Linked DNA regions of Homo sapiens: all the other regions are linked to region 3. Evidence: fine-mapped expression QTL. A gene starts in region 3. Each other region holds a variant in brackets. All regions are shown on one strand. Distances are between the middles of the regions. Region 1 has its middle 3.2 kb from the start of MIR219A2HG. Region 2 has its middle 13 kb from the start of MIR219A2HG. Region 3 holds the start of URM1 (ubiquitin related modifier 1).

The links. PIP is the estimated chance that this variant, and not a neighbour inherited with it, causes the effect.
Region 1: its variant is fine-mapped to the expression of URM1 in esophagus mucosa (GTEx, PIP above 0.99). The same link has a PIP of 0.9 or more in sun-exposed skin.
Region 2: its variant is fine-mapped to the expression of URM1 in breast (GTEx, PIP 0.98).

The regions. Positions count from the first base shown.
Region 1 is chr9:128,394,223-128,399,222 of GRCh38, forward strand. No RefSeq gene overlaps it. Among named protein-coding and RNA genes, the nearest start is that of MIR219A2HG, 3.2 kb to the left of the region's middle. The variant T/C (reference allele first, on the strand shown) is at 2,342.
Region 2 is chr9:128,403,004-128,410,550 of GRCh38, forward strand. No RefSeq gene overlaps it. Among named protein-coding and RNA genes, the nearest start is that of MIR219A2HG, 13 kb to the left of the region's middle. RefSeq lists an enhancer at 1,754-2,554. The variant T/C (reference allele first, on the strand shown) is at 4,246.
Region 3 is chr9:128,368,338-128,374,409 of GRCh38, forward strand. It overlaps URM1 (ubiquitin related modifier 1), which reads left to right and starts at 3,037. Exons shown (of 5, transcript NM_030914.4): 1 at 3,037-3,078. The coding sequence starts at 3,044. RefSeq lists enhancers at 1,344-2,208, 2,209-3,072, 3,136-3,235.

The sequences.
Region 1 (5,000 bases), 25 kb after region 3:
CGCCCCCAGCCCCACCCCCAGCCTGGTCTGGCAGAGACGGTTCTCAGTCTATTGGGTAAATACATAGCCAGCTTCTCACCCCCAAAGCCCAGCCTGTCTTTCCCAATGAACCTCACACCCTAAAGTGGGAGTGTGTGGCCATTTTTCCCATACAGCCTGCCTTCCATTCACCCCAGAGTTCTCCAAGCACCCAGAATACCCCTGCCTCTGTCCTGGCACACCAAGCTGCCTTGCTCTGAAATGCTCTCCTGTCCTCACAATCTCTGGGTGGCCTTGCCACGTGCCCGGCTGAATTGTGAATATCGGTTTGTCTGAGTCTCCTCCCTAGGACAGGAAACGGGTCCTACGGATCTTTGTGCCTCCAGGGCCTAGTACAGTGCCCTCCCCCCAACCAATCATTAAATATCTGTGGGTGGTTGCACGCATGCCCGGTGACTTTAAAATGAGCCACATAGACTTCTTGGAGTTTCTTATAAAAGTTGAAAGAATGTTGCTTGTGGGAGGTAATTCTTGCAGCCCGGGTTTTACAGGGAGGGAGTCCTGCTAACCAGATCCCAACTCCTGGGAATGCTCCATTTGGTAATAATAACAGCAAAGAGTGTATTGTGTGCCAAGCACTAAGCTCTTTGAAGGTAGTAGCTCACTGATTCCTCACAACAACCCTGGAAAGTAAGTGCTGTTATCAGCCCCATTTTACAGATGAAGAAACTGCAGAGCCCTCCTTCCTTAGGCTCCTCCCTGGAGCTTCCAGCTGGAGAGGGAGGGGGAGCATTCTGGAGGTCACAGGGTCACTCCCTGAGAAGACCATGCTGGAGGATAAGACAGAAGGCATGCAGCCCCAATCCCCAACCTCCAGAGACCGCACCCACTAGGGATCTAGAAACCCAGAGCTTTAGGACTTGCTGCACACTCTAGTTTCCAAGCCTTTATTTAGTGGGTACAGAGGGGATGGATGTAAATGCACTTAAAACGGCTAGACCCAGGAGACACTCTGTGTCACCTTATATTAATACATTATAATCCAGTCCCAGCCCACCCCAGCCTGGCATGAACACAACCAAGATGGACTGGGCAACAATAGTCTCTGATTACCAGGTGCCATGGCTGGTGTCCATAATCCCAACACTTTGGGAGGCCGAGGCTGGAGGCCAAGGCAGGAAGATTGCTTGAAGCCTGAAGTTAAATACCAGCCTGTGACAGGTGAGGTGACTCATGCCTGTAATCTCAGCACTTTGGGAGGCCGAGGCGGGCGGATCACTTGAGCCCAGGAGTTCAAGACCAGCCTGGGCACATGGCAAAACCCCATCTCTACTAAAAACACAAAGATAAGCCGTGTGTGGCGGCAAGCGCCTGTAATCCCAGCTACACAGAAGGCTGAGATATGAGAATCACTTAACCTGGCAGGTGGAGGTTGCAGTGAGCCTAGATCGTGCCACTGCACTCCAGCCTGGGCAACAGAGAGACTTGGTCTCAAAAAAAAAAAAAAAAAAAAAAAAAAAAAACCAGCCTGGGTAAAAAAGTGAGACCCCCATCTCTACAAAAATAAAAATAAACTATTTATTTATTTATTTTAAGAGGGAGTCTCGCTCTGTCGCCCAGGCTGGAGTGCAGTGGCACAATCTCGGCTCACTGCAATCTCCACCAACTGCGTTCAAGCAATTCTCCTGCCTCAGCCTCCAGAGTAGCTGAGATTACAGGTGCCCGCCACCATGCCTGGCTAATTTTTGTATTTTAGTACAGATAGGTTTTCACCATGTTGGTCAGGCTGGTCTCAAACTCCCGACCTCAAATGATCCGCCCTCCTCAGCTTCCCAAAGTGCCAGGATTACAGGCCTGAGCCACCACACCTGGCCAAAATAAAGATTTTTAAATAAAAATTTAAAAAAGAGTTGGGGGCTGGCCGGGTGCAGTGGTTCACACCTGTAATCCCAGCACTTTGGGAGGCCAAGGTGGGCGGATCACGAGGTCAGGAGATCGAGACCATCCTGACTAACACAGTGAAACCCCGTCTCTACTAAAAATACAAAAAATTAGCCGGGCGTGGTGGTGGGCGCCTGTAGTCCCAGCTACTCCTCGGGAGGCCGAGGCAGGAGAATGGCATGAACCCGGGAGGCGAAGCTTGCAGTGAGCCGAGATCGTGCCACTGCACTCCAGCCTGGGCGACGGAGCGAGACTCCGTCTCAAAAAAAAAAAAAAAGAGAGTTGGGGGCTCCCAAGCTAGGTCCTAGCTGCCTTCTAGGAGAAGGGCTTTTCTGTCCCCAGGGTACATTAGAGCCAATTTCTTTTTTTTCTTTGAGATGGAATCTCGCTCTGTCCCCCAGGCTGGAGTGCAGTGGCGCGA[T/C]CTCGGCTCATTGCAAGCTCCCCCTCCCAGGTTCATGCCATTCTCCTGCCTCGGCCTCCCGAGTAGCTGGGACTACAAGCGCCCACCACCACGCCTGGCTAATTTTTTGTATTTTTAGTAGAGGCGGGGTTTCACCGTGTTAGCCAGGATGGTTTCGATCTCCTGACCTCATGATCCGCCCGTCTCGGCCTCCCAAAGTGCTGGGATTACAGGTGTGAGCCACCGCACCCGGCCAGACAGCCAATTTTTTTTTTTTTTTGAAACGGGTATCTCCCTATGTTGCCCAGGCTGGTTCTCGAAATCCTGGGCTCAAGGGATCCTTTCACCTCAGCCTCCCGAGTAGCTGAAATTTGACAGGAATGTTCCACCATGCCCAACTGAGGTATTTAAAGCCCATCAGTACTGGGCAGAGAAGTGAGTTGCCCTCACCCGCACCCTCAGGGAAATGAGGAGCCAAGAAGGCTGCTAACTGCAGCCACTGAACAGATATTGATGGAATGCCTACTGTGTGCTCGCCCAGGACTCGGCAGAGGACAGATGTCCCCAGAGGAGACGCACAGTGTGGGACAGAGGCAGATCCTGGGGGAGGAGGAGTGGGGAGTTAGGTGAAGGCGGGCACTGTCCCAGGCGGAGGGAACAGCGTGCTCTAAAGAAGTACTTGGCGAGCTCAGAGAAGGAAGGAAATTTGGTGTGGCTGGAGCGCAGTGAGGAAGGGGAAGTTCCACATAAAGCTGAGGTCGACCTTGCCAGGCTCTTAGGCTATTGGGAGGATTTGCGATTATATCCTAAACGCGGTGGGGATCCTGAAAGGTCTGACAAGTTCAGATTTACATTTTTAAAGGTTTGCTGGGACTGAAGTGTGGAGAATAGGGGGAGGGGGGATGGGGGGATAGGGCAAGTTTGATGACCAGAGACCAGTTAGGCTACTGAGCCAGGTGAGGGCCAGCGGTGGCAGAGCAGGCTCTGGAGCCGTGTTCTTGACGGTCTATCTGAGTGATTCTCCATGAGCAACGCTTAGTGGACCGATGTTTGCAAAGCACTGTGTGTGCGCTGAAGGTAGGGGAAGGGAGAAAGGCAAATAGTGTCATTGCCCCCCGGAAGTACCCGGTATCCAAGTGGACCAACAGACACAAATACCCAGCCAACTCTAATGAAAGCAGAGCCCCGGGAAAGCACGGTAGCTGAAGAATTAGCAAGGTTCTGGGGATTATAGAAGACAGAGATTCATTCCAACAGGGAAGCTGTGGGAAGACTTCAGGAAGAGCCAGCATTGCCTTGGGCTTCCAGGACAAGTGATTCCAGGAGGCTGAATCTTAGTGACAGCCTCTGTGCCTATCCATCGTGCCTGTCCTGCCTCTCTAGAAATGGGTGGGTGTTAGGAGGATCCAAACACCCTCTGCATGTGCTTGCAGTTAAGTAATGTGTCATCATGAGCTTCCACCATCACCACCATACACCCCGGGTGTGCATGCGCACACACACACAGCACACACACACAACCAACTCTCAGGAAGATGGCAGAGTCAGCAGGATGCAGTGGCTCACACCTGTAATCCCAGCAGTTTGGGAGGCTGAGACGGGCGGATCACCTGAGGTCAGGAGTTTGAGACCAGCCTGGCCAACATGGTGAAACCCCGTTTCTACTAAAAATACTATAATTAGTCGAGCGTGGTGGCAGGTGCCTGTAATTCCAGCTACTCAGGAGGCTGAGGCAGAATTGTTTGAACCCAGGAGGCGGAGGTTGCAGTGAGCTGAGATCCCACCAGTGCACTCTGGCCTGGGTGACAGAGTGAGACCTTGTCTCAACAAAAAAATTAAAAAAGAAGACCAGGCGCTGTGGCTCACGCCTGTAATCCCAGCACTTTGGGAGGCCGAGATGGGTGGATCACAAGGTCAGGAGATCGAGACCATCCTGGCTAACACGGTGAAACCTCATCTCTACTAAAAATACAAAAAAATTAGCCGGGCGTGGTGGCGAGTGCCTGTAGTCCCAGCTACTCGGGAGGGTGAGACAGGAGAATGGCGTGAACCCGGGAGACGGAGCTTGCAGTGAGCCGAGGTCACGCCACTGCACTCCAGCCTGGGCAACAGAGCAAGACTCCGTCTCAAAAAAAAAAAAATTAAAAAAGAAGACGGCAGAGTTGTCCACACTGCCAGTTAAGCAAGCCCTTCCTTCCCACCAGGACTGGCTTTTTTTTTTTTTTTTTTTGAGACGGAGTCTCGGTCTGTCATCCAGGCTGGAGTGCAGTGGCGTGATATCGGCTCACTGCAACCTCCACTTCCCGGGTTCAAGCAATTCTCCTGCATCAGCCTCCCAAGTAGCTGGGACTACAGGCACGTGCCACCACACTCAGCTAAATTTTGTATTTTTAGTAGAGGTGGGTTGAGACCAGGATGGTCTCAATCTCTTGACCTCATGATCCACCCGCCTCAGCCTCCCAAAGTGCTGGGATTACAGGCGTGAGCCACCGCACCCGGCTTTTTTTTTTTTTTTTTGAAGTGGAGTCTCACTCTGTCACGCAGTCTGGAGTGCAGTGGCACAATCTCCATTCACTGCAACCCCTGCCTCCCAGATTCAAGCAATTCTCATGCCTCAGCCTCTCAAGTAGCTGGGACTATAGGTGTGTGCCACCATGCCCAGCTAATTTTTGTATTTTTA
Region 2 (7,547 bases), 35 kb after region 3:
GAAGTTAAGGAGTTGGGACTCACGAGAGTTCAAGACCATCCTGGACAACATAGTGGGAACCCATCTCTGCAAAAAAAAAAAATTAGCTGGGCATGGTGATGGGTGCCTGTAGTCCCAGCTGCTTGGGAGGCTGAGGCAGAAGGATCACTTGAGTCTAGGAGGTTGAGGCTGCAGTGAGCCATGAGTGTGCCACTGCACTCCAGCCTGGGTGACAGAGAGAAACCATGTCTAAAAAATAATAATAATTGGGACTTAGACATACTGTATAATTCCATTTACATGAAATATCCAGAATAGGCAAATCTATTGAGACAGAAAGCAGATTAGTGGTTGCCTAGGGCTGGGGAGAAGGGCAGTTGGGGAGAAATGGGGAATGATGGCTAATGAGTATGGGCTTTCTTTCTTTCTTTCTTTTTTTGAGATGGAGTCTCACTCTGTCATGCAGGCTGGAGTGCAGTGGTGCGATCTCAGCTCACTGCAACCTCCGTCTCCTGGGTTCAAGCAATTCTCCTTGCCTCAACCTCCCGAGTAGCTGGGATTACAAGTGCCCACCACCACGCCCTGCTAATTTTTGTATTTTTCTAGTAGAGATGTAGTTTCACCATGTTGCCCAGGCTGATCTTGAACTCTTGACCTCAGGTGATCAGCCCACCTTGACCTCCCAAAGTGCTGGGATTACAGGTGTGAGCCACCACGCCCAGCCTGAGTATGGGCTTTCTTTTCAAAATAATGAAAATATAAAATGGCTTGTTGTGATGGTTGCACAATTCTTGAATATACTAAAAGCTGTTGAATGATACACTTTAAGTAGGCAAATTGCATGGCATGTGAATTACATCTCAACAATGCTGTTATGAAAAAAAAAGAGGCCGGGCACAGTGGCTCACACCTGTAATCCTAGCACTGGCCGAAGCGGCTCACACCTGTAATCCCAGCACTGGCCGAAGCGGGTGGATCATGAGGTCAGGAGATCGACACCATCCTGGCTAACACGGTGAAATCCCATCTCTACTAAAAATACAAACAATTAGCTGGGCATGGTGGTGGGCACCTGTAGTCCCAGCTACTCCGGAGGCTGAGGCAGGAGAATGGCGTGAACCCGGGAGGCGGAGGTTGCAATGAGCCAAGATCCCGCCACTCTGCCACTGCACTCCAGCCTGGGTGACAGAGCAAGACTCCATCTCAAAAAAAAAAAAAAAAAGATAAAAAGAGAGGGATGGGGCTCAGGAATCCCACCTCTGCCACTTACCTGCTTGGCACATGACTTCATACCTCCCAACCTCAGCTTCCTTAACCAATAAAATAGGAAAAATAAACATCTCCTGGGTCTTTTGTGAGGATTAAATGAGATAATACATATTATTATTCCCATTTTATCAAGGAGGAAACAGGCCCAGAGAAGGGAAGTGACTTGGGTGCAGATGGCACAGCTGGTGGGTGGCAGGTGAGAGACTCAGGCCTGGGTCTCATGGCACCACCCCATCTTTTAGCATTGTGTAGAGTGGACCAGTGTCTGCACACTCCACCCACCCCTTCACCAACACTCTCTTCCATCTCCCTCCTTCTCTTGGGCTCTGGGGCCCTGTCTCCCCACTGCTCACGCTCAGAACAAGTGGAGGTGGCTGAGTCCCCCCAGAGCACAGGACACCCTCTCCCCCAGCCCCCACCCTGCTCCCCTCCTGGGGCCATGATGCTGTCTTGCTTTTGCTTGTAATAAAGAAAATATCTCAGCTACCCTTCCATGGTTGCTTGGCAACCCCGAGGGGGGTTGGGTGGGGGGGACCAAGGGGAGGAGGGATGGGGGAGGATTCTGGAGCCAATCTGGAGACAAAGAGTAGGATTTGGGTGACATGGAGCCTGTTCTTAGTGCTAACCTGGCCTGGCTGGGGCGGCGGGTGGGGGCAGCGGGCTTCCTCCCACCCCAGTGTCTCACACCAATAAATATGGATTAGGGAAATGGGCTGAGTTTTTCCCACGGGCCTGAAAGGCCGCATCTGACCTTTCTACCCCCTTTATGTACCAATGTGACAGTCAGAGACAGCAAAGAGCAGGACCCCCTGAGATGCCTCCCCCATGGCCTTCTGACTTGGGGAAACTTTTCACCCTCCTCCTTCCCCTGGCCACAGACCAGGTCACAGCTCTGCCTGGGCCCTTGTTCCGGGGATGAGAAGGAGGCTGGTTTCCAGGTGGGCGCCAGGAGCTCCCATCCTCAGTGTCCACTCCGGGCCCTGCTGGCCGTGACCGGTGCAGAGCCAGGCTGTGAGGCCCTGGACTGGTTAGTGACGGCCCTGCCTGCCTCCTAGACAGTCCTCTGCTCTGTGGCTCCCCCATCCTGTCCCTGCCCCATCTCTGCCTGGGCCGCCTCCATCAGGAGCCCTATCGTCCGTGTCCCTTTGCGTCCCTCTCCTCAGATACTTCCCACCACCCTCTTCTCGACTTGGTTTCCCTCTTTCTCTCCTCCTGCCAGCCCCCCACGCCCCAGTCGTCCATGAAACTAGGAAGCCCTTGTGGCTGAGGTATCTCCTGCAGTGAAGAGGGCAGGAAGGGTTGTGGAGGGGGAGGTGGGGGCCGTGATCTCACTCCCTGGTGCCCTGACTTTCTGGTCGTTGGCCGGGGGTGGGGATCGGCTGCTCTGAATGGAGTCAGTGTAGAGGCAGGAAAAGCAAACACCTCCGTGTGGGCCCTGCTGGCAGTGGATGGGAGCGGTCGGGGGGCAGGGGCCTGGGCTCCTCTCAGCCTCCTTGATCAGACCTCTCCCCACTCCTGAGGCTCCCTGTCTTCCTGGACCTTTGGCCTACAGTGTCCAGAAGGAGAGTGGGGTGAAGGTTTAGGGGGAAGCCCTCTGGGAGACGTCTTTGCTCAAATCTTTCCCTGCTCCTCTGCCCAACCCCCAGCCAGTGCCCTTCCTGCCCAGCAGATGCCAGGAAAATCTGTGCCCGGGAAGGGCGGTCTGGCACCTGAGGGCCCCGCCTGACCAGTCCTTCTCAGCAGCAGGAGCTGGGTGGGAGTCACCTTATGCCAGAGACGCCCCAGCAGTGCCATCCACCTCCTGGGCTGAGGAGTACCCCCAAGAGGCTCTGCCCGGGTGAGTGCTCCTCTGGCCCCACAGCCAGGCAGTGAGGGAGGGAGAGGTTGTCCATGTCGGGGCTCCCCAAGACCCCCACAATCTCCGTGAGTCCTCATGGTTCTGTGGCCTTTTCTGTTGTGACTGTCTCACCCTCTGTCTGGGACTCGTGTGTCACTGATGGTTTGGTGAGGGGAGCTGAAGGGATGGTTAGAGAAGCTGGAGGAGAGGGCTGGGAATGTGAGGAGGTAGGAGGGGCTGGAGTCTAGGGTATAGGACTCCTGGATTCCCAGCCAGGTTTTTGTGTTTTATTTTTATTTGTATGATTTTTAAATTTCTGTTTTAAAAGATGAGGTCTCTCTTGCATGGAATATATCTTTATATTAAAAAAAAAAAAAAAAAGATAAGGTCTCACTATGTTGCCCAGGCTGGTCTTGAACTCCTGGGCTCAAGCAATCCTCCCACCTCAGCCTCCCTAAATGCTGTGATTACAGGCCTGAGCTACCGCACCCAGCCTAGCCAACTTTCTGATTAGATTTGTGAAATCACAGAGGCTGCTGTAATGGTTTCCTTTTAACACTTTGGATTCTAAAAGACCTTTGGAATGAGCTCAGAGAGAGTTAGCAGTTCATCCCGGGTGACACAGCAAACTGCTGGTACTCAAACCCACCAGGCCCCCTCATCACACCGCAGGCTGTTTGTGTTATGGAAGCCATCTTTGACCACCTCTCTCTTTCCCTCTCCACATGCAGTTTCCCCCTGAATTTAAGAGGCTGAGGGGTGGAGGGAGCCGACTCTGCCTAGCACCTCCAGGCCTTTCCTTTCTGTTGTCTCTCCAGGCACCATGCCCAGGGCCCAGCCTAGTAGCAGGAGCAGCCCCTGCCTGGGCCTCAGAGCGCCACAATCTCCTCTGACTATCCCTGGGAAGCCGTGGTTGGCTTTTGCCTTACATCCCCCAGAGAATGGCGTCTTTGTTCTTGGTGTCTAACCATAGTCCCTCATGTTGTCTTTAAAGCCCAACCACTTCCCAAAAAGCAAGGTCAACAGCTGACTGCATACCACAGCACCCCAGTGGTTCCTGCTTTGAGGTGGGACCTGGCTGGGGGGACCCTGCCGAGTAGAAACAGGCATTCCTCACTGGGTCAGGCTCTGTTCTGAGGTCGTCCACGTACCTTGCTGAA[T/C]GGTGGTCACCACATTCCTGCAGTGTGGAGTCAGTTTTACAGATTGGAAAACTGAGACACGGAGCATTGAAGTGACTCATCTGTGGACACACTGCGAGAAAAAGAGCTGGGATTCAAGCCCATAGCTTGGCTGCAGAGCCCAATCCCTTAAACGTTCTTCCATAGTGCCTCTGATTCCTAGGAGGCCTCCGCTGGAGGTCATTGCATTCAATCCCCTGCATCTGGATGTCTACCCAGGCCCACCTCTGTTCACAGATAAAAATCAATCAAGCTTTTTTTTAAATAAACTTTATTTTTATTTTTTGAGACACAGTCTCACCCTGTCGCCCAGGCTGGAGTGAATGGCCACCATGCTTGGCTGATTTTTGTATTTTTTGTAGAGATGGAGTTTTGCCATGTTGCCCAGGCTGGTCTTGAGCTCCTGGGCTTAAGTGATCCACCTGCCTCAGCCTCCCAAAGTGCTGGGATTACAGGCGGGAGCCTCCCAAAGTGCTTGTCCAACCTCGTTTTTAAAGGCAACTGCAGCTGGGCACAGTGGTTCACGCCTGTAATCCCAGCACTTTGGGAGGCCAAGGAGGGCTGATCACAAGGTCAGGAGTTGAGAGACCAGCCTGGCCAATATGGTGAAACTCCATCTCTACTAAAAATACAAAAATTAGCCAGGCGTAGTGGCGGGTGCCTGTAGTCCCAGCTACTCGGGAGGCTGAGGCAGGAGAATCGCTTGAACCCGGGAGGTGGAGGTTGCAGTGAGCCAAGTTCGCGCCACTGCACTCCAGCCTGGGTGACAGAGCGAGATTCTGTCTCAAAAAATAAATAAATAAATAAATAAATAAATAAATAAATAAAGGCACCTGCTCCAAGGATGGAATTTCCCCTGGGGATAAGCAGACATTTCTTTATTCATAGCCTTCTGGCAGGGAGGGAAGACCCTCCCAGCCAGAACTCACCATGTCCAGCTGCCTCGTTGTTCCTCTCTCCTTCCCACTGGAGTATAATTTCAGGAAGGAAGCGGCTCCGCCTTGAGTATTGGCTCCACAACCTCCAGGCTGTGTGGCGTTGGACAAATGACTGAACTTCTCTGAGCCTTAGCTTATCAAGTGTAAAGTGGAGCTAATTATACATCTGCTTTGTGAGTCTGAAAAAGTTTACATGATAAAAGGGTATGAAGGTCTGAAAGGGCTTAGTGAGCACAGTGCCTGGCACCTCTGAAGTGCACAGGACCAAGTGGCAAATACTTCTCACTGCATCCTGAGGGGTCGTTCCCAGACCCTGAGATCCCACCCAGCCACAGCCAAGTCACCTTCTGGGTTGTCTTACTTAGCCATGGGATTGTCCCTGTTCCCCTGTCCCCTCCCTAGTCCGGGTTCTGGCCTCAAGAAAGAAGGCCCTAGGGGTAAAGGAGTTGGAGGAGGGGGGCTTGGCAGCACCACCATCACCACTGTCATCATCCTCATTGAAACTCTTCTACCTGCAAGATCAGAGCCTCGTGCTTTTGGCCTTATAGTTTAGCCTTCTTACTACAGATAGGGAAACTGAGGCCCACAGTGGGGAAGGACTTGCTCAGGGTCACGTAGCAAATTGGTGGTGGAGCAGGAACTAGCTCTCAGTCCTCCACATTCCCGGTTGGTTTCCCCTGTCTCTTCTTGATGACTGCCCACCTCAAGTCCTCCCCTGGTGTGCCTAGGGTGTGGGGCCTGGCACCCAGTCCTGCCTGGCAGAGCCTGGAGAGAAGTGAGCCGCGGTTGGTGGAGTAGTCGCAGCGGCCCGGCGCGTTCTCAGCCCGGCTCTTTGTCTGCTGCTTTGTGATGGTAAGTGCTGCTCCTAAATCAGTTCTGTGACACTGTTATTGTTGCCCAGGGCGCAAAGAGTCTAAACTTTTCCCCTGAGGTCAAGAATGTGGCTGGTCCCCAAGCCGCCCAGAGCAGAGGCCTGGGTGGCTGGGGGTGGGGATGGGGCCTCGCCCCGAGCTGGGGCGAGATGTTGGGGGGAGGGGGTCAGCGGGAACAAAACGCTTTGAAATGCCTCCTCTCCATCACTGCCAACATTGTCCGCTGCCCGCGGGGGGCCTGGCACCGCCTCGCCGGGGCTCCGGCCCCCAGCCCTGGCCAGGCGCGGCCCGACATCTGAAAATGGACAGAAGGTTATTGTCCCTTCCCGCAGCCCTTTGTCTGCCCCAGTTCCAGATGTCTAGGCTGGGACCAGGGAACTGACCCATGGTGGGCAGGGGGGAGAGGACAAAAAGGGAGAGCACGGGTCACTGCATCCTGAGGGGTCGTTCCCAGACCCTGAGATCCCACCCAGCCACAGCCAAGTCACCTTCTGGGTTGTCTTAGCCCTGAGATTGTCCCTGTTCCCCTGTCCCCTCCCTACTCCAGGTTCTGGCCTCGAGAGAGAAGGCCCTAGGGGTACAGGAGTCAGAGCAGGGGACCTTGGCAGACTCACGGACGGGGCTGAATCCAGCTCCACCCGGTAACTGTGTGATCTTGGACAGGTGTGGCCCTCTCCCAGCCTGCTTTCCCCATGTGGGGACCACGGACCAGGTTCATTCACAGGTAATGATGGAGCCCTCCTACGTACCAGCTCTGAGCTGAGCATGGGGGCACGCGGTGGTGCATGGGCCACTTGGATCCTGCCCTTGACCATTGTGGTTAAATAGAAGAGTAACAGGCAGCATTTCCCACCCACTACCTCTGGGTCAGGTCCTGGGCTAATCACTTCATCTGCGTCATCTCATCCTTTCCATAACAAAATCAAAGATGCAGAGGCGTTTTTCCTGTCTCCATTTTGCAGCTTTGGAGACTGCTAGACTCTTGAGAGGTCCAGTCACTTGCCCAAAGCCAGGCAGTCTGGAGGCAGCAGAGCTGGGATTCTAGCCCAGGCCGACCGTAGCCACCAGGAGGAGTAATTCGCTAATAAATACTTGGAAAGAATCGAGCACAGAACCTGACACAGCTCCAGACTCAGAACTGGTGGTGTTTACTCCATGCATAGAGTGTCCCCATTCCACAGGTGGGGCGACTGAGGACAGGGAGAGAAAGCCTGGGGCAAAAAGCTCCAGGGAACTTAAACAGTAACACCAACAGCAGTTCCAGAGTCACCAGGGCTGGCCAGAGTGAGACAGGCAGACTTGGTTTCAAACCCCAAACCCCAACTCTGGATGAGCTTGGCAAGTGATTTATTTAGATTCTCCGTGCCTCAGTTTCAAGGTTTCCTCTTCTGTAAAATAAAAATATTCCCAACTGGCCAGGCATGGTGGCTCACACCTATAATCCCAGCATTTTGGGAGGCCAAGGCGGGCAGAT
Region 3 (6,072 bases):
CTGGAGTGCAGTAGTGTAACCTCCGCCTCCCAGCTTGTGCCTCAGCCTCCTGAGTAGCTGGGACTACAGGTGTGTGCCACCATGCCTGGCTTTTGGTAGAGATGGGGTTTCATCATGTTGCCCAGGCTGGTTCTGAACTCCTGGCCTCAAGCAATCCATCCACCTTGGCCTCCCAAAATGCTGGGATTACAGGCGTGAGCCACTGTGCCTGGCCAGGGCCTGCATATAAAGCTGGTAGTTGTACTCCTAGATCTTTACAAAAAAAATTTTTTTTAAATTAAAAATTCTTTGGCCAAGCCAGGTGCAGTGGCTCACACCTGTAATCTCAGCACTTTGGGAGGCCAAGGCGGGCAGATCACCAGGTCAGGAGTTCGAGACCAGCCTGGCCAATATGGTGAAACCCCATCTCTACTAAAAGTACAAAAATTAGCCAGGATGATGGCGCAAGCCTGTAGTCCCAGATACTCGGGAAGCTGAGGCAGAAGACTCTCTTGAACCTGGCAGGCAGAGATTGCAGTGAGCCGAGGTCATGCCACTGCACTCCAGCCTGGGTGACAGAGCAAGAATCTGTCTCAAAAACAAAACAATTTTTTTTTGGCCCAGTGTGGTGCCTCACACCTGTAATCCCAGCACTTTGGGAGGCCAAGACAGGCAGACTGCTTGAGCCCAGGAGTTTGAGAGTAGCCTGGGCAACATGGTGAAAACATGTCTCTACAAAAAAATTTTAAAAATTAGCCGGGCATGGTGGACTAGAAGGAAGGAAGGACTTTATCAGTGCCTGTGGTCTCAGCTACTCTAGAGGCTGAGGCAGGAGGTTCCCTTGAGTCCAGCAGCTCAAGATTACAGTGAGCTGTGATCATGCCATTGCACTCCGGAGTCTCACTCTGTCATGCAGGCTGAATGCAATAGCATGATCACGGCTCACTGCAGCCTTGACCTCCAGGCTCAGGTGATCCTCCCCTCACAGCCTCCTGAGTAGCTGGGACAGGCACACTCCACCATGCCTGGCTGATTTTTGAAGAAACATTTACAGACATAGGGACTTGCTGTGTTGCCCAGGCTGGTCTCAAACTCCCAGCCAGAAGCAGTCCTCTTGCCTTGGCCTCCCAAAGCATTGGGATTACAGGTGTGAGTCGCCACACCCATTCCACCTGAACTCCTAGATCTTAACTATTACATCATTCTGCCCTTAACCACTAGGCTACACCATCATCCTCTACCAATGCTGAGTTCAGTTTTGGAAGTGTTGGTGTTTAGATACCCATAGGCCGTCTACTTCATTCCATTTCTTTTTTTTAGCGTCTCACTCTGTCGCCCAGGCTGGAGTCCAGTGGCACGATCTCGGCTCACTGCAACCTCTGCTGCTTCCTGGGTTCAAGGGATTCTCCTGCCTCTGCCTCCAGAGTAGTTGGGATTACAGGAGACTGCCACCATGCCTGGCTAATTTTTGTATTTTTAGTAGAGACAGGGTTTCACCATGTTGGCTAGACTGGTCTTGAACTCCTGACCTCGTGATCCGCCCATCGTGGCCTCTCGAAGTGCTAGGATTACAGGCATAAGCCACTGTGCCTGGCCAACTTCATTCCATTTCTGCCCTGGGCTTTTTTTTTTTTTTGAGACAGAGTCTTGCTCTGTCACCAGGCTGGAGTGCAGTGGCTCGATGTCAGCTCACTGCAACCTCCACCTCCCGGGTTCCAGCGATTCTTCTGCCTCAGCCTCCCGAGTAGCTGGGACTACAGGCGCACGCCACCACATCCAGCTAATTTTTGTATTTTTTTAGTAAAGACAGGGTTTTGCCATGTTGGCCAGGATGGTCTTGATCTCTTGACCTCGTGATCCGCCTGCCTCGGCCTCCCAAATTGCTGGGATGACAGGCGTGAGCCGCCGCGCCCGGCCTGCCCTGAGCCGCCGCGCCCGGCCTGCCCTGAGCTTTTGCAACAGGCTCCAGTGGTCTCCGTGTCTCTTTCCTTATTCCCCTCAAATCATTCTCCATATTGCAGCCAGAAATTATATTTTAAAACACAATTCTAAAATGTCACTGTCTCCCAAAACCCTTCAGTAGTCTCCCACTGCTCCTAGAGACTGAAATGTTTACCTGCTTACAAGGCAGGGGTTGGCCCCTGAGCACCTTTGCAGCTCCCTCTCTAGATGGATGAAAGTCAGGCTCCCTAACTTCCACCTTCCTCTCCATGTTCCAGCATGTTCTCACCCAGAGCCTCTGGGCCTTTTGTCCTCCTCACTGGAATGCTCCTAGAGGTTTCTCTCCCCTCACAGCCACCTAGTTTACTCAGGTTTTAGAGCCCAGCAAGTCCAGTCTACTCAGTTTTCTTTTTGAAGTTCCTATAACTTCAGTTCCTTTATTTAAGTTTGAGGTTGTACATGTCTTAGTATGCTTATTTGATTACAGTTAGTCTCCCCGCTAGACTGTGAGTGCCCTAAAGGCAGGAACCTTGCCCATCCCCTTTACCACTAGCACCGATCAAAATGCCTGGCACAGGGAGGCGCAATGAACAGCTGTTGAACGAGTGACTTCCAAATCGACAGCAAAGGGGGCGGCTGGATAGCGAGTCGCCCGCTCAGGAGAGATTCTGGGTCGGAAATAAAGATCTGGGAGTCATTTATAATTCCAACCAGACGAGTAGATGGGCTGGCCCAAGCGGTGTGTAGACTGAAGAGATTCTAACTCATGCAAGATAAGCAGCTACGTGGCTCACGGTCACGTCGCAAAAAACCTGGGGGCTCTCCTCCGCCTGCTTGTGGTCCCGTACAAGGCGCTTCCCACCCTGGGTCTCTGAGCCCAGTCGGTGAAAGACGGAAGGAGACCGATTCACAGCCCCAACAGCGCCGGTGATAGTCCCTCTGCCACCCCTTTCCCTCCGCTGCCCTCCCCTCCCCTCCCCTCCCCTCGATGACTTCCTCCAACAGCTGACGAAGCTGGATCCCTGGGCACCGCCTCTTCCGTCCGCGGCACCCGGAGACGCCCGGAAATTTGCGGGCGCGCCGGAAGTTGAGGGGAGTTTCCTGCGAGCTCGGCTTCCTCAACATGGCTGCGCCCTTGTCAGTGGAGGTGGAGTTCGGGTGAGTCACAGAGCTGGGGCGCCGTGGGGATGGATTGAAGTCGTCGGGCCCAGAATTCCTTTCCTTCTGCCGTGGGGCCTGACACGGCCGAATCACTGGGTGTCCCAGTGCCCGCTGTGAGCTACGCTACCCGCCTAGGAGAGTCTGAGAGGCCAGTCTCTCTTGGCAGTGAGGCCGTCTGTCCGGAAATAGAGGCGCACATTGGGAGGGAAATGCTCTCTGTGTACCACTCGGTGCCCTGTGCTCCGCCGGAGTCGGAGGTCGTGACTGTTAGCAGGCAGCCTCTCTCTCTTCTTTTCCATTCCTATCTCGGACCAATCCCATCTGTTTGGCATCTGAGCTCCTAGAACCTAGAAGGACCACCCTCCACCCGCTGATTTCATTCTTTGGGCAGCAGTTTCTTTTTACACTGTTATTAAGGTCTTGTTTCTCGTGGGATGTAGTGGCCAGGGCGGGACTTTTTTCTTTTTCTTTCCTAAGACTTGGGGATGGTAAACAGACCTGAGCCTCCTTCAGGACAGTCAGTAAACTTGCTGATTGCCTTCTGCAGAACTGGAGTCAGGTGGAGACACGGGGACAAATAAGAAATCACACTGAAGGGAACTAACAGGGACAGTATAGTATACACAAGATGAAAAATGCAGAGATTGGGACACACACCAGTTACTGAAGAAACACAGAGCAGGGAGGAAGTCTACCCAAGGCACTATTTGTGCTTCCTACAAACAGGTTTGTCATATGGTTTCAAAGCTGAGGGAAACTGCAGAGCTTAGAGAGAAGGCAAAGAAACAGGCCTTGAAAGATGGGTGGTGTACTTTACAGTATCACGTGGAAAAGAGGAAATAGGTAGGGATGTGTGTGTGTGTGTGTGGAATAGGTAGGTGTGTGTGTGTGCCTGTGTGTGTGTAGATAAGCCAAGGTCTATGTGACAGGAAAAGTCTGGGATGGGAATCTAAAACCTCTGCCCAGTGCCTTTCTTCTCATTGGATGCCTCCCATTTCTTTCATGTTTTCCCTTAATTGGGTAGTTCATTCACCAGCCATTTATTGAGTGCCTACCATGTGCCGGGCAGCAAGCCAGACACTGAGGATACAAAGATAAATAGAAGTCTGTCCGTGCCCTACAGCGTTCAGCATTTCTGCCCCTTAGAAGGGGGGTAAGTCTCATGACTAAGTGCATTTTAATTGATATTGTCTGGCTGCTTGGATCCAATTAGAACTGTATTGGTCTGGACTCCTCACTGTTTTGCCTCACTGACCCTTGGCCCAGCTACACTCCCCAAAGCCTGGGATTCTAGGAGGATCCCTGCTTCCTTGACAGGCCTCAGCAGAGCTGGAAAGAGAGAAGCCACAGACTGCTGTGTTAAGATTTATCTGGGCCAGGCATGGAGGCTCATGCCTGTAATCCTAGTACTTTGGGAGGCTTGGGCAGGAGGACTGCTTGAGCCCAAGAATTCGAGACCAGCCTTGGCAACATGGGGAGACTTCATCTCTACCAAAAAAAAAAAAAAGAAGATTTATCTGCAGACAACTTGCCTTTCATCCTCATGAGTCAGACATGGTCTTTGTTTATCAACAATGTCTCTGCTAGGTACTGTGCTAGCTCAGTGGGGAAGTCATGTGAGGAAGATGGGGCCATTGCTCTCCAGAGCTTACAAACCAGCACAATTGCCCTTTTTCTGACCCAATCATCTCTAACTTCAGTCTCCCTTACCTCCAAGAGCAATAATGACCCCTGGCAAGGCAGGACAACATTCCTCCACCCACCCACCCACCCACCCACCTTCTATCACCTCCTGTCACAGCACAGCGTTCCATGAAAATTGCAGCATTCTCAGGAATGCCCAACATGATGCTCAACCCAGGTTCCTTCTCTCTTTGTCCTTGTGTTGATGCACGTTTTTGCCCTGACCTTTCTTTCATTTCCTATGTATCTTAGCAGACATGATTCACCCTTATCCAGAACTGGAGCAAATTTGCAAAGGCTAACACGCCCTTCATTTTCTCTCTTTTGTCCCTTAGTGGCCCCACTCCCACTCCAGTTCTGGAAGGGTCTCCCTCCTGAGCAGATGTAGTCCTCTTGGCCCCACCAGCTCCTCCAGAGACCCTCTGGAAGGCCTCTAACACCTTCCTTCTTGTCAGTGACCACGTCTGCCACCCTTTGTCTTCCCCCTGAATTGTTCTCAGCAGAGCGTTTTCTCAGGTCACGCAGGATTCAAAGTATGTAATATAGTTGTGTTTTGTGTCCCTGTGGTCCATGTTGTAAAGGCCCAGATATGGAGTTCTCTCCGTCCCACCCCTCTTCCTCCTTCCCAAGTTGGGGAGGTATTGGCAAAAGGAGGGAATGTCATTGAGGTCAGAGAAGAACTGGGAGAAATGGGCATTTCCTTTCCTTTAGCAGATATTTGTTGAGTGTCTACCATGTGCCAGGCCCTGTTTTAGGCAGAGCTTGCAGCCCAGCAGGTGGAGAGGAAGTAAATAAACAAAATATATATATACGTGTATATGTATGTGTATATACAGAAGATTAAAAGATGAAGATACATCAGAAAAGGTGAAGGTGGTTTTGAGAATATCTATACCTGTCACTGGTATCTACAAACACATCCACCAAGAATTGGGGGGGTTGAAGGAAGATGGAGATATGTCAGTTGAGTTTGAATAGCAGATCTTATAAGACATAAGAGAGTCTGGCCTTGGTCTCTCCTGGGCTAGAACAGGCCCCTTGTCTGCCTCCCTGAATCACTCTTGAGGCTGGGCATGCACCTTCCCCCACTCCAGATGTGCTGACAGCAGAAATGCCAACCCCTCCCTTGAGGGCCAGTGAATTCAGCAGTGACAGGTCACTCTCTGAGCGAGACTGGTTCTCCCTTCATCCGCTTGTAAAGGGAAAAACAGCCTCGGCCTCTGAGCCTGGCACCACCAGGTTTGGCCAGTCTTGGTTGTTTGCCTAAGTCCCAGTGCCTTCAGTTCCCATCCCTCTTCTCTGACCCCC